3 separate regions of the Homo sapiens genome follow, and regions 1 and 2 are each linked to region 3. The links come from fine-mapping of genetic effects on gene expression. A gene starts in region 3. Each other region holds a variant in brackets. All regions are shown on one strand. Distances are between the middles of the regions. Region 1 overlaps GALK2 (galactokinase 2). Region 2 overlaps GALK2 (galactokinase 2). Region 3 holds the start of GALK2 (galactokinase 2).

Evidence for each region.
Region 1: its variant is fine-mapped to the expression of GALK2 in whole blood (TOPMed, PIP 0.99).
Region 2: its variant is fine-mapped to the expression of GALK2 in blood mononuclear cells (TOPMed, PIP 0.96).

What each region holds. Positions count from the first base shown.
Region 1 is chr15:49,318,742-49,323,968 of GRCh38, reverse strand. GALK2 (galactokinase 2) reads right to left here. Exons shown (of 10, transcript NM_002044.4): 9 at 4,164-4,365. Among named protein-coding and RNA genes, the nearest start is that of FGF7, 100 kb to the left of the region's middle. The variant G/A (reference allele first, on the strand shown) is at 2,085.
Region 2 is chr15:49,221,428-49,226,654 of GRCh38, reverse strand. All of the region lies in intron 3 of GALK2 (galactokinase 2), which reads right to left. Among named protein-coding and RNA genes, the nearest start is that of GALK2, 54 kb to the right of the region's middle. The variant TAAAC/C (reference allele first, on the strand shown) is at 2,447.
Region 3 is chr15:49,168,233-49,173,459 of GRCh38, reverse strand. GALK2 (galactokinase 2) reads right to left here and starts at 3,213. Exons shown (of 10, transcript NM_002044.4): 1 at 3,085-3,213. The coding sequence starts at 3,137. MIR4716 (microRNA 4716) reads left to right here and starts at 4,307; the gene lies at 4,307-4,390. RefSeq lists enhancers at 3,026-3,265, 2,897-3,801.

The DNA.
Region 1 (5,227 bases), 150 kb before region 3:
GTTTGGCTACAAAAGATACTTTATAATTCAGCAAACATTATCTTTTTCCTTCATTATTTACTTTGTTTCATATAATTTAAGTTCTAACATTAATTTAATTTTTTAAAAAAGCCTCACTCTGTAAGTATAGTTTCCTTCATCCTCCCTGCTCCTTTCTTTAGATTCTAAACTGATTTTCTCTTGAAGAGCAGGAAAAGGTTCAACTGAAAAAGACAGCTAGCAGTGGTGCTCTTTCCCAACCCCCCTTCTCTCCACTTGGGTCACAAAGTTGTTCTATACATTGTCCTATATGCTAAGTAGGAGATGCCTTTTTAATTCAGTCTAGCTCAGATCACTGTAAGATTTTCTGCTTGTGTATAGCAACTTAGGTATTCTAGGTATTCAAGCCGTTAATTTACTCACTCAATTAGTTGTCTTTTCATACAAATAGTTTCCAAGAAGCCCTTCAGAAACACTAAAGGAATTTTGAAGTGCCATAAGTGGACCAGGGAGGGTGATGTAAAGATTATTTTTGGCAGTGCTCCTCCTTGAACCCATTTCAGCTTCCCTCCTCCTCCCTCTTTTGGGGAAAACAAGCAACCTGCTCAGGCTGCCCAGTCTTAGTCACACCTTCCCTACTGATGTTAACATTTTTAATGGTGGCAGGGTAATTGTGGAGGTGGTGGTGGTTTTTAAACAAAGCAATACTTTGCTAGAGGTTGTGTCTGTGGCACCAGTGGCTCACACCAGGCCTTGCCAGGACCCCTTCCAGTATGTCCAACACCTTCTCTGCCTGACCCAGTGAGACAGTCACAAGGCTTCAGAAGGAACTAGGGCTTACAAGTAGCTCCACTGTTCATTCGAACCTTTCCCCATGTTACTACCTGCTACTCTTGTACCGTCTGTCTTCCCCATCCTTTATCCATCCTTTATCTTATTCCCACTAATTTCTGCATTCTTCTGAACCCCTCCTTCTTGCCTCATTACTTTCCAGACATCTTTTTTTTTTTTTCTTTTTTTTTTTTTTTTACCTGAGATGGAGTCTTGCTCTGTCCCACAGGCTGGAGGGCAGTGTTGCGATCTCGGCTCACTGCAAGCTCTGCCTCCCGGGTTCACGCCATTCTCCCGCCTCAGCCTCCCGAGTAGCTGGGACTACAGGCGCATGCCGCCACGCTCGGCTAATTTTTTGTATTTTTAATAGAGATGGGGTTTCACCGTGTTAGCCAGGATGATCTCGATCTCCTGACCTCATGATCTGCCCGCCTTGGCCTCCCAAAGTGCTGGGATTACAGGTGTGAGCAATTGGGCCCGGCAAGAGAAAGTCACAGCTTTTGAAAGTAGAGAATAGACTGCAATTTCACACGGTACAAAGATACCCATGTGAAAATATGTATTGATTGAAGGAGGGAAGGACATAATGCCTGCATCAACTTAATTCCCCTGGGGCTATCCTCCTCTGAGGTTGCTCTGCCACTTAGGACCTTTCAGTAACTTGCAGCCAACTGAAACATTTGAAGAATATTATCTGCTGGTCACAGTGACAGCAAAGAAAAAATTAATTATATAAGAAGCTTTAAGGACCAGACAACTATTCTGGCCAACAAGCCAGAAGATAATCTTTCAATATGGAAAACTTGGACCCTATATGGTTATCGAATAAGTAGAAAATAACTTTGATACTTAGCAATTGGCTTTCCAAACAAAACAATCATGAAAAAGTGATGGAGCTCCTGAATTTTTCACAGAACTGAATTTTTCTCAGAAAATAAATACAGCAAATGAAAATGAAACACTTTAGCTGCCATTAAGAAAGGATTTTCCAAAAACAAACAAAATGAAAAGATAAATAAAAGGTACTCTTCCAAACCCATTTAAGACATAGCCATAAGCTTTTTCACTAGAACCATATTTTTTAAATGTATAGGTCTGTAGACTGCTAGAACAGAAAAAGCCAATGGAGAACACAAAGCGAAGCAACAGTTCCAGCTCACAGAGCTCAGAATGAAAAGAGAGTCGGAATCCAAGCTTCCTCACTTCCAGCCCACTTTTCATCCTACTCTACACATTACGTTCCTGCTCAACATGACTTTGCTTAATGTTCAAAT[G/A]CTGGAAACTATGACAACAAAGGCCTCCATCATAAAGCTTCAAAGCTAGGAGATGAAAATAGGTTACAAACACACACGTACACACACGTATGTATGACCCACATTTAAGTGTAATCACATCTTAGTATAACCCAAGGGGAGAGGCACGTGTGGCAAAATCATTGGATTGGGAGCCAGGCTTTCCAATGAACTCATATGTGAAACTTACTCAAATTATTTCATCTCTTAGTGCCTTCCTGGATCTCTAAGACCCCTTCCTGATCTAATATTTTATGGTACTCTAAGATAACTCTTACCTACAGTGGTGAAGTGTGCTTTTCAAAAATGTGGCTTTTAGAGGCACAAGGAAAGTTTCTCAGGACAAAAACCCAGGAGTCGTCTTGATTTCTCTCTTATACCCACACAGCAATTATCTAAGTCTTCCTTGCAGGCATATTTGGCATAGAATTGCCTAGCATTTCCATTGCCCCCTTTCTCTTCTCAAAGCCAGAAGCCTTCCGATGGCCTACACGGCCTATATGGTGTGGCTCCCCACTTCCTTCCTTACTTCATCTACTACCTCTCCTTCCTTCCTGGCCCTCTGCCATGCTGATCCTGCTGAGCCTCACACCTGACAGCCAAGTATCCACCTCAGGGCCTATGCATTTGCTGTTCTCATTTATTCACCTCCTTCAGGCCTCTGCTCAAAGATCTCTTCGTCAGAGTGACCTTCTTCAACCACTCCACAGAAAGAGTACCCACCCAAACCTGTAGTCTCTATTCCTTCTCATTTTTTTCCATAGCACTTATCACTACCATTCAAATTATTTTTAATTGTCATTTCTCTCTTTCCCCACGAGAATGTAAGCTCCATGAAAACAAGTACAGGTTGACCACTCTAGGAAGAGAAAGTTTATTAGAGAATTCCAGGAAGCTGGCAAATGCCCTTCCGCAGCTTTTCAGGTGGGATTCCAACCATCCCACTTCCTTCCAGGCAAAGACATTTCTTCCTGATCTCTGCAGAAATAATTCCACTTCCTCTTATTTCCAGAACTGAACAATATTTGTCCCTTCCATATACTAGGCCCTTGATATTTTCAGAAAAGGGTACTTAAAATGAAACAAGCTGGGGAAGGCTTTTGGAAATGAGTGAGCAAACATGTCAGCAGAGTGATCTTCATCAATGCTGTGTTCAAGTCTTTTGACAAGCTGGATTACCCAGGCCATTTGTGATCACTGGAGTTACTTGGTTTAAACTTTTCAGGCTGGGAGTGTGGCAATGACTGAGGCAAGCCACAAGTGCCAAGTGGTTAATTACATTTCCATTACTAATTGTAGTGTAGCATTGTGTTCTCACAGTGAAGTAACATCTAGCGTTTGAGAACTTTCCCAGTTTCAGTTCTCCCAGGGTCACTGAGCTCCTTCCTGGGTAAGAGGACTAACTCTGTTATCTCCATTCTTTCACAATTTTAGGAAAGCTGATTTTAGGCTTTGTGAAAGAGTTGTCCTCTTTACATTTCTGCCTCTATTAACCATGTATCACCTGGGCTTTCTTCAGCCTTTATTTCCTCAAACTGCCTAAACTAAACCTAGAAGGCAGGAAATGCTGGCTTTCTGGGTGATTCCTTCAGCAAATCTCCCCACATGCTCCCATCAAGCTTGAGATCCTCTGTCAGTTTTCTCCCTTCTTCTGAGTAGAACTACTAAACTTAATTAGGACACTGGACAGGAGTTTCTGGCAGAGCAGCAGTATAATAAAACATATCATAAGAAAGTTAACAGGGCCCAGCTCTGAGCAAAGTTACCATCCTGAAAGGCCTAATCATCCAAAGACGGAAAGGTCTTTCTCATGATGTAAAGAGCTGACTCCAAACTGACTCCAAACCCAGAGCCTCATAAAATCATGGAGCCAGGTAGCAAATCTTTCATCCTACAGGTATTTAGAAGGGAACAAGTGTAGCTCTGTATCATCAGAGACTCCTCATATAGGAAGTGGGGAATGATCTTCATTCCCGTAGATTATGAAATGTTGCATTTTTTTCCATTAATTTAAACAATATTATTTGATGGCATCCCTTGGCCCCCACCAGGCTGCCTCACCGACAGATGTCCACCAGCTGATCCAGCTCGGGGCAGCTGCACTCATACATGTCCCGGCAGCTCATGTGGCTCTGGTTCATCAACTCTCCCAGCAGCTGGACCATGTTTTCAGGTGCTTCTTCACATATCTTCTTAAACTGGAGCACTCGCGCAGCCTCGCTGTACACATGCTTTGCCCGCTGATAGAGTTTGAAGATGAGCACTGAGGAAGGAAGAGGATGGGGAAGGAGGTTAGGAATAGTTACTGGACAACCCAGTATAAAGAAAAATACACTTTTAAAGACTTTCATTTCTGTTTTCATTATCAGTATCTTAAACTTCAATAGGTCTCTCTTGCTGAAAGGATTCTTTCAATTGAAATGTGTCTATCGGCAAGTCAGGTTTACTTTTTTCTTGATACTGAATAAAATCTTGTAACTATATTTCCTTCACTTCACTCAACACACATGTGCATATACTTGTGTGCAATCTAATCCATCCCAAATGAAGACAGACCTAACATGTAATGAGTACACCCTACATGCCAAACACTTTAAAATACTACTTTGTGTAGGCCAGGCGCGGTAGCTCACATCCGTAATCCCAGCACTTTGGGAGGCCGAGGCAGGTGGATCATCTGAGGTCAGGAGTTCAAGACCAGCCTGACCAACATGGTGAAAACCCATCTCTACTAAAAGTACAAAAATTACCTGGGCATGATGATGGTGGGTGCATGTAATCCCAGCTATTTGAGAGACTGAAGTGGGAGAATTGCTTGAACCTGGGAGGCAGAGGTTGCAGTGAGCTGAGATCACGCCGTTGCACTCCAGCCTGGGCGATAGAGCACGACTCCGTCTCAAAAAAAAAAAAAAGAAAGAAAGAAAAGTACTACCTCATAAAGTTCTCATCACAGCACTGAGGGATGTGCAGTATGATCCCTGTTAACAGAAAAGAGAAGGAGGCTCAATAGAGTGAAGTGACATGCTTAAGGACACACATCCAGAATGTGGCGGAAGCCAAACAGATCAGGGATGCCTGGCCCTAGAGCCATGTTCTTTCCACTCTGCCCCAACAGAAAGGACCAC
Region 2 (5,227 bases), 53 kb before region 3:
ATTAGAAAAGCAATAAGAAACAAAACCCAAAAATAGTGGAAGGAAAGAAATAATGAAGATCAGAATAGAAGTAAATAAAGTAGCTACTAAAAAAAAACATAAAGGGTTAAAGCTTTTGGAGGGATAGCAGATAAGGTGGCTGACTAGACACAGCCAGGAAGCACCACTCCCACTGAACGAGACTAAAAATTAAGTAAACTAATAAACTTTGAGCAAATCTTAGACAGAAAACACCAAGAGTAGATAGAGAAGCAACACTGACACTGAGGCTGAAAAGAGAAGAAGCTGGGAACCTTGTGTGGGGTTGCTGAATGCTAGGGCTCATGCTCAGCCCTGAAAGCCTCCTGAGGGAGGGGTTAGTGAAGGGATAGTGGGGCAACCCACTCTTGCTGCAGATCTCCAATCCTAGGTACAAGAGATCCTATGACGCCCATAAACATTTAAACTGGCAAGGGGATCTGCCTGGAGAGTAGGCAGTAAAAGTACTCCAGCCTATATGGAATGGAGGTTTGGCACACATGACAGCCGCAAGCAGAATACAGCCATAGGTGCCCATCCCCCAACGCTCCCCTTCTTCCTCTGAGTAACTCTAACCCCAGTTGACCACTGGGTCAAGAGAACAGGGCTGACTTTCCAGTGGGAATGGGGCATGTCTGTTCTGCAGGCACTCCTGCCCACCAGCCCCTTCCAAGGCCTCTGCCCAGCTGCTCTAACAGGAACATGAGTACAGTGCAGCCTCCACTGCCCAGTATGGGTGCTTTATCAAAAGGCCAGCCTGAGTACTTTCTCAGAGGTCTGGAAGCAGTTGGAATCCCCCAGCACAGTTGGTGCTGTGCCAAAGGGAGCCAAAAGATGGAGCTGTGGGCCAGTCCCAACAGCTCAGGGCTGCAGCATGCAGCTTGGGAATCTTGAGCCAAGATCTGTAGCCAGTGCTAGAGCAGGGAAGGAGCCCACACCCTCAGAAGACAGAGAGGAGTGAAACACAGAGGCTTGTAAGCCAGCACCAGAGAAGGGCATCTCTCCCTCTACAGCAGCAGTCCCCAACCTTTTTAGCACAGGGACCAGTTTTGTGGAAGACAATTTTTCCATGGATGGTGTATGTTGGGGAGGAGGGGATGGTTTCAGGTTGAAACTGTTCTACCTCAGATCATCAAGCATTGGATTATCATAAGGAGCATGCAACCTAGATCCCTCCCACATGCAGTCCACAATAGGGTTCATGCTTCCATGACAGTCTAATGCCACTGCTGATCTGACGGGAGACCGAGCTCAGGTGGTAATAATGCTCACTCACCCACCACTCACCTCCTGCTGTGTGGCCCACTTCTGAACAGGCCATGAAGCAGTAACAGGGATTGGGGAACCCTGCTCTACAGGACCAGTCCAAGAATGGTGTGGCCTATCTGCAGGTCATAGCCTCTGCCTGAGGGAGCCCTGCAGCCCGGAAGACCTAATTAAAGAAAAAGACAGGATCAGTGCCAGTGATCAGAGGCGGCTTCCTCAAAGCTCAGGAACAGACCTGCTGAGAGGGTCATCTGTCTCCCCCTACCCCACTATAGACCACTACTGCAAATGCACTGAAATACAAAAAAAGCTGTGAAGCTGATTAAGAGCCTATCTGCTGGCCACCACTCTTAAGCACCATTTACTGGATCACATCCCAAATTAAAACACCAAAAATAATCTGCCAATATACATCACTTGTGAAACCAGGGGCAAGAATCTAGCCACAAATAAAGATCCTGTACAGAGCCTTGGCCCTCTGAAAGCAACCAGAAATGAAGCCAATTGACTATCCTCCATTTAAACCACAGTTAAAAGAACACCACTTCTCTCAGAGGAGAATCAGTGAAAAAACTAAAGTAAAAGGAAAAAAATTGGAGTTATCACATTACCCAACTTCAAATTATACTACAAGGCTATAGTAACCAAAACAGCATAGTATTGGTACAAAAACAGATACACAGACATAGACTTATAGAACAGAATAGAAAACCCAGAAATAAAGCTGAACACCTACATCCATCTGATCTTCCACAAAGTCAACAAAAACAAGCAATGAAGGAAGGGCTCCCTATTCAATAAATGGTGCTGGTATAACTGGTTAGCCGTATGCAGTAGAATGAAACTGGACCCCTATCTTTCAGCATATATAAAAATTTATTCAAGATGGATAAAAGATTTAAATATAAGACCTCAAGCTGTATGAATCCTAGAAGAAAACCTAGGAAATGCTTAGAATTTGGCCAAGATTTTATGGCTAAATCTCCAAAAGCAACTGTGATAAAAACAAAAATTGACAAGTGAGACCTAATTAAAGAGGTTCTGCACAGCGAAAGAAACTATCAACAGAGTAAACAGATAACTCACAAAATGAGAGAAAATATTCACAAACTATGCATCTGACAAAGGTCTAATATCAGAATCTGTAAACATTGTAAACAAA[TAAAC/C]AAGCAAAAAACAAATAATCCCACTTAAAAATGGGCAAAGTATATGAACAAACACTTCTCAAAGGAAGACATACAAATGCAAATCAAAACCACAATGAGATACCATCTCACTCCAGTCAGAATGGCTATTATGTAAATGTCAACAAGAAACAGATGCTGGCAAGGCTGTGTAGAAAAAGGAATGCTTATACACTCTTGGTGGGAGTGTAAATTAGTTCAGCCACTGTGGAAAGCAGTTTGGAGTTTCCTCACAGAACTTAAAACAGAACTACCATTTAACCCAGCAATCCCATTACTGGGTATATACCCATAGGAAAATAAATTATTCTAAAAAAAAAAAGACACATGCACTCATATGTTCATTGAAGCACTATTTACCATAGCAAACACATGGAATCAACGCAGGTGCCCATCAATGGTGGGCTGGATAAAGAAACTGTGGTATACATACACCAGGGAATACTATGCAGCCATAAAAAGGATGAAATCATATCCTTTGCGACAACATGGATGCAGCTGGAGGCTATAGTCCTAAGCAAATTAACACAGGAAGAAAATCAAGTACTGCTGCATGTTCTCACTTATAAGTGGGAGCTAAATATGAGTACACAGGGACATAAAGATGGGAACAATAGACACTGAGGACTAGTAAGCAATGGCGGGGGCAGTAGGGAGGCAGGAAGTGTGGGCTGAAAAACTGCCTATTGGCTGCTATGCTAACTACCTGGGTGATGGGATCATCTGTACCCCAAACATCACCATTACAAAATGTATCCAAGTAACAAACCTGCACATGTAACCCCTGAATCTAAAATAAAAGTTGAAATTATTTTACTGAAAAAATACAAAGAATCAAGAAAATGGAAAGTTGATTATTTGAAAAGAAGAACAAAATTGATAAACTGCTAGCCAGATTAACCACGAAAAAAAGTGAGAAGACCCAAATAAACAAAATCAGAATCAAAAAAGGACATTACAACTGATACCATGGAAATACAAAAGCTTATCAGACACTGTTATGAACAACTATACTATACACAAACAAACCAGAAAACCTAAAGGAAATTGATAAATTCCTAAACACACAACATACCAAGATTAAATCAGGAAGAAACAAAAAACATAAACAGACTAGTAACAAGTACCAAGATTGAAACAGTAAAATGAAAAGGCTTCCAACAAAGAAAAGCCCAAGACTGGACAGCTTCACTGAAAAATTCTACCAAACTTACAAAGAACAAATACCAATCCTCTTCAAACAATTCCAATGAATTGAAGAGAAGGGAATTAACCTAGTCCCAAAAGGCAAGCATCACTCTGATGCTAAAATTAGAGAAAGGTGTAACAAAAACCAAAACTGCAGGCCAAGATCCCTATTTACATATATGTAAAAATCTTCAACAAAATTGCCGCAAACTGAATCCCACAGCACATCAAAAAGATAAAACACCATGATCAAGCGGGATTTATCCCAGGGATGCAAGGATTGTTCAAGAAACACAAATCACTAAATGTGACACATCGCATCAGTAGAATAAAGGACAGAAACCACATAATCATCTCAATAGACATAGAGAAAGCATGTAATAAAATTCAACATCCTTTCACGATAAAAACTCTCAATTATCAGGCATAGAATAAATATACCACAACACAATAAAAGTCTCATATGACAAACCCACAGCTAACATCATATCAAATAAAGAAAAGTTGAAGCCTTTCCTGTAAAACCTGGAACCCAAAAAAGATGACCAATATCACTACTCCTAGTCAACATAATACTAGAAATTTTAGCCAGAATAATCAGGCAAGAATAAAAATAGAAGGATCCAAGTTGAAATGGAGGAAGTTAAATTGTCCTGTTTCACAGGTGACATGATTTTATATCCAGAAAAACCTAGACTCTAAAAAAAACTCTTACACCTAATAAATAAATTCAGTAAAGTTGCAGTATAAAAAACCAACATACAAAAATTTGCAGCATTTCAATACATCAATAATGAACTAGCTGAGAAAGAAATTAAGCCAGAAATGCTGTTTATAATAGCTACAAAAAAAAATACCTAAGAATAAATTTAACCAAGGAGATGAAAGATCTCTAAGGAAAACTAGAAAACACTGATGAATGAAATTGAAGAGGACACAAACAAATGAAAAGACATCCCATGTTCATGGATTGGAAAAAATTAATATTGTTAAAATGAACATACTGCCCAAAGCAGTCTACAAATTCAATGCAATCCCTATGAAAATACTACTGTCATTTTCACAAAAATAGAAAAATATCCTAAAATATGTATAAAACCAAAAAAAAGAGCCCAAATAGCCAAAGCACTCCTGAGGAAAAAGAACAAAGCAAGAGGGGTCACGCTATCTGACCTCAAAATATATTATAAGGCTATAAAAACCCAAACAGCAAGGTATTGGTATCAAAACAGACACAAGTAATAATGGGACAGAAGGGAGAACCCAGAAATACATCCATGTATGTACAGCAAACTCATTTTCTTTTTTTTTTAATTTTTTTATTTTTTTCAAGACAGAGATTTTGCTCTTGTTGCCCAGGCTGGAGTGCAGTGTCACGATCTCGGCTCACTGCAACCTCCACCTCCTGGGCTCAAGCAATTCTCCTGCCTCAGCCTCCTGAGTAGCTGGGATTATAGGCACGCACCACCACACCCAGCTAATTTTTTGTATTTTTAATAGAGACAGGGCTTCATCATGTTGGCCAGGCTGGTCTCAAACTCCTGACCTCAGGTGATCTGCCTGCCTCAGCC
Region 3 (5,227 bases):
AAATAATCCAAATTTTTAATATTAAAAATGTATTCAGTGTCACCCTGCTAGCTCAACTGGTAGAATAGAGACTCAAGAATGTGTTCATACAGCAGCATTATTCATAAGAGCCAAAAGATAGAAGCAACCCAAATGTCCATCAATTGTTGAATGTATAAACAAAATGTATATCCATAAGCTAGAATATTATTTAACCATAAAAAGGAATGATATACTGATACATGTTAAATGATGTACTGATACATGAACCTTCAGAACATTATGCCACATGGAAGAAGCCAGTCACCAAAAAAACACACATTTTATATGATTCCATTCATTTGAAATGCCCAAAGTGACTAAATCTATAAATACAGAAAACAGAGCAGTAGTTGTTTAAGGCTAGGTGAGGGGAAAGGGAATGGAGTTCTGGGGTGTGATAATCTAAGGGATGGCTGGGTTCTTTCTAAGAAAACGTTCTAAATTTGATTATGGTGATGGTTGCATAGCTCTATGAATACATTAAACCCATTTAATTGCAAACTTTAAATGAATTAGTTATATGATACGTGAATGTCAATAAAACTGCTACAAAAATAGCAATAATCCAACAAGTTTTAAAACTTAATCCAAAAGAGAAAGTAAAGATAAGAGATACAACTGCTAAGAATGCAAAGAAAGCCAGAACAGTGAAATTCAGAGTCTTACGGTACCGGTACCATGCAAGAGTGGGACACAGAAAGAAAATATTAGAACTTCAATTTCTATTTGATTTTTACATAAAAATAATAAAAATAAAATTAAGTTTTACTAAAATGTATGATATGGTTGACCAGTGCCTTTACTCAAAGGATCATGTGCCTTGTGAGGTTGAAGAGGCATCCTGGAAAAAGAATAAGAGTTCCACAAGAAAGCAGGCTGACCATTCATTCATTTTTTTTCCTTCTCAGCATATTGCAATACTTGACCGGTTAGGTGAATTTATAGATTATACTATTTAGATTTAATAAAATACATCCCTCCTAGAATGAGTAAGTGGCTGCAAAACATTCCTGCAAATAAAACATTGCTTGAAGCTAATAATTGCATTTTGTGCACAAATGAAAAACAAGAAAACGGCAGAGCTTATCTACTATGATCTCTTCTGTGGATAACACAGAATAAATATTAACAATAAATATTTGTTACATGAATAATATAAAAATCATGAAAAGCAAGAAGAACACTAAGGAAATTCAGTAAACAATTCTTCACTTTTAGTACATGTACCTATACTTGTTACCACCATCCTCCCCCAAACAGGGTAAATATAGATAGAAATGTTGATCTTTATTATTACAATCACATAAAATGGAAACACATTAGGAATTTACACATGGGTATGTTTTATGTAGAAGATTAAACTATAGACGTGGCACGGTGGCTCACGCCTGTAATCCCAGCAATTTGGGAGGCTGAGACGGGCGGATCACTTGAGGTCACAAGTTGGAGACCAGCCTGGCCAACATGGCGAAACTCCGTCTCTACCAAAAACACAAAAAAATAACGGGGCGTGGTGGCGGGCACTTGTAATCCCAGCTACTCTGGAGGCTAAGGCAGGAGAATGGATTGAACCTGGGAGGTGGAGGTTGCAGTGAGCGGAGACTGCGCCACTATACTCCAGCCTGGGCAACAGAACAAGACTCTGTCTCAAAAAAAAAAAATAAGACTAAACTACAAGAGATCAAGTTATTTTCATGTAACAAATTTCTCATTAATCTTATTGGAAGCATGCCTTTAACAGTGTGTCTTAATTAATTCAAATATATAAGGGCAACAGTGCTATACAAGAACCTCTAGAGTATATTAAAACATTCAAAGACATTGAGAAGTAGTCCAAAGCTGTGCTGGACTCTATAATAAGAAATCATGCTTCTTTCTGGTAACTAAAGACACACTGTTTGCTGGTTTAAGGATGAAAGAACATTTTCAAGTTGTAGTAAAGTATAATATCATCAACTGACACACGGTGGTAATAAACCACCAAGTAGGAAGAGCTTAAGGACTTGATGCCAGAGAAAAAAACTAACAGAAAAAAACTGAAAACAGCAAAGGCAGAGGGCCGGGCGCGATGGCTCACGTCTGTAATCCCAGCACTTTGGGAGGCCAGGGTGAGCGGATCACTTGAGCTCAGGAGCTCGAGACCAGCCTGACCAACATAGAGAAACCCCATCTCTGATGAAAATACAAAATTAGCCGGGTGTGGTGACGCCTGCCTGTAATCCCACCTACTCAGGAGGCTGAGACAGGAGAATCGCTTGAACCTGGGAGGCGGAGGTTGCGGTGAGCCAAGATGGCGCCACTGCACTCCAGCCTGGGCAACAAGAGCAAAACTCCGTCTCAAAAAAAAAAAAAAAAAGAAAAAGAAAAAGAAAAAAGAAAGGAAGGAAGAAAGAAAAGAAAAGAAAAACAGCAAAAGCAGAGAGTCAGGAAAGCCCTTCGCTAATGTAGCAGGTGACAGACTTCATTTTATGAGACCTCAGCCCCATTAGTCAGAACGAAGTATTTCTACAAAGTACCTGTAACTGAAAAGATCCTCCCCGAGACATCACTAAACTATTAGTTACTGTGTAGCTAGGGACTGCCAGCAAATTAATTCCCTAAGTGACAGTTCAGAGATTCTCGTGTTTTTGTTTTGTTTTGTTTTAAAGAGGATGCAGACACCAAGAAGGTTTTTGTGTTTGTTTTCAATTAATATTTAGAAAGAAGACTTTTAAAAAGCAGTATCAACTGGCATGCGAGACAAAGAGAGGAGTTCAGTGTGGATATGGGCATTTCTGCTGAAGCCCAGTAGAAAGAGTACACTAATTACAACAAGAAAAGGAAAAGAAGAATCTGCATGGATGAAGAAAAAAACATACAACCCTTCGTAGTAGTCAAGGTAGAATGTGTTTGCGGCGTGATCTTTTTTGCAAGCCCAGCCACGTGTCCTTATAGAATCCCAAGGGTTCCACTTGCTCCCCGGGACCAAAAGCAGCGCCCCAAGGGAGGAGCCAAGTGCTGTGGACCCGATCTACACGTAGCCAACCCAGCAGATCCCAAAGCCCGGCGTCTCCTCTCCCCCACCTAGGATGTTCTGCCACCTGGACCCGACGCGTAGCAGGGCTCTCTGTAGCCATATTTCGCTAGATCCTTCTTTCTCCTGTAGTTTCAAGTGTCTAAGCAAAGCTCCCAGAGCAATCACGAGACTTCTGTGACAGGAGCCGTTTTCTTCCGGGAGATAAACAGCTCCCGCCCTGCGGAAATCCTGCAGCTTCGCTGAGGTGGCTGCTTCCAATCGGCCCCTCCTCTGGCTCCTCCTCCCTGGACTCAGCCAGGGTTCCCTCCAAGCAGCAGTCAGGTACAGCCTCCGTCCTGCTCTTAGCTCCCAGGGAGGGACTAGGGCCTCGCAGGAGCCCCTGCGCAGAGCACGTGCGAAGCTGACTAGTGAGGTTTTCTTTTTGCGCCCTGTGGATGTCAGAGAACAGTGTCATAACCTGGCGCCCTACATACACCTAGTTTCTGATCTGTCTCGGGCTGCGTTTTTTTGTTTGTTTGTTTGTTTTTTAGTTATGGTTTTGGTCTTTATTGTTCAGCAGCTACTCCCCAAACAACACTAAAATGTTTAGCTATTGCTTCTTTGCGGATTACTTCCAAATCAAGCAACATAAAATTGATGTATCACTTGATTTAAATAGATTTGCATTTATTTACAGGTTAGAGGCATTGGTGGGCCTTCCTAGAACACAGTAGTGAAAAGACGGAAACACATGCCTTTTAATGTGCAAGACCCCTTAGCATCCAGTTAAACCTCTTCATTTTTCACTTATCTAGAGAAATCCTAGATGCCCTATCAAAAGTACACTATCCCTAGTACATCACTAACTTTTCCTTCCTTCATAGTTCTCCTATTTGCTTATGTATTTATTGTGTCTCTCACCACCTCCATCATCACTACCACTAGAAAGCAACTGGGGGCAGGCAGATTGGTTTTTAATGAATAGGTAAGATAAACTGAATGAACGACGAAAGGTGAAATGATGTGCCTGAGGTCACAGTGATCATTGGGAACAAAACTGGAATTAAAATTCAGATCTATTAACTCTCAATCTAGTGCACTTTGCACCTCAGAAATATTGAGATTAAACCCAAGCAAAGACAGCTAGCAATAAACCCATTCCAAAGTTTCCTGATTAAGGAAGTTTGAGCCAACATGCCCAACACACTAGGGGTAGTAGCATAACTCAGAGAGATTCGATAAGTTGTATACATCAGTAAGTTACTGCTCCAGAATTTCTATATGTATATGCATACTTTGTCTCCATGTTTCCTTCCCCCTTCTGTATACATGTATACAGGAGGAAGGGGGAAGGAAACATGGAGACAAAGTGTGAATGGACAATAAAGCATAGCCAAAGAGTGGCAGCCCCTTGGCACCCCGTTGGGTTATTACTGTAAATGATACATCAAAGAAACAAAGTTACTCTGGTCTCAGGGCAGCTTTCTCACTATTATTTCAGTCCCTCTTTATCATTTTCAAATGAATGAATTATATCTTCTTGTTTCTGGGCCCCAATAAATCCCAGTTTGATGTTCATTTTGGTTTAATTTTGAGTAACAGGAGTCATCACTGTCACTTGTAAATAGTTTTAATAGGGAGATAACCTAAATTTTAAAAAAAAATGTAAAATGTTTAGGGACATCAGTAAATACAGAAAAGAACAGAATCTTTTTTTTTTTTTTTAGATGGAGTTTCGCTCTTTGTTGCCCAGGCTGGAGTGCAATGGCATGATCTCTGTTCACTACAACCTCCACCTCCCAGGTTCAAACGATTCTCCCGTCTCAGCCTCCCAAGTAGCTGGGAATACAGGCAGCCGCCACCACACCAGCTAATTTTTGTATTTTTAGTAAAGACGGGGTTTCACCATGCTGGGCAGGCTGGTCTCGAGCTCCTGACCTCAGGTGATCAGCCCACCTCGGCCTTCCAAAATTCTGGGATTAAAGGTGTGAGCCACCGTGCCCAGCCCAGAATCATTTTTTATTCAGATGTTTCTAATATATTCTTTTGCATTAGTTGAAAAATAACAAATTTTAAAGTTTTGAATTTTTTTAACAGTCCAAAATAAACTCATTTTATACAGGGTTAAAAAAAAATGACTGTAGAAACTGTTTCGAAAAAGAATACTTCCTACTGAATATGTACTTGATGACCGAACATTAACTTTGCTAA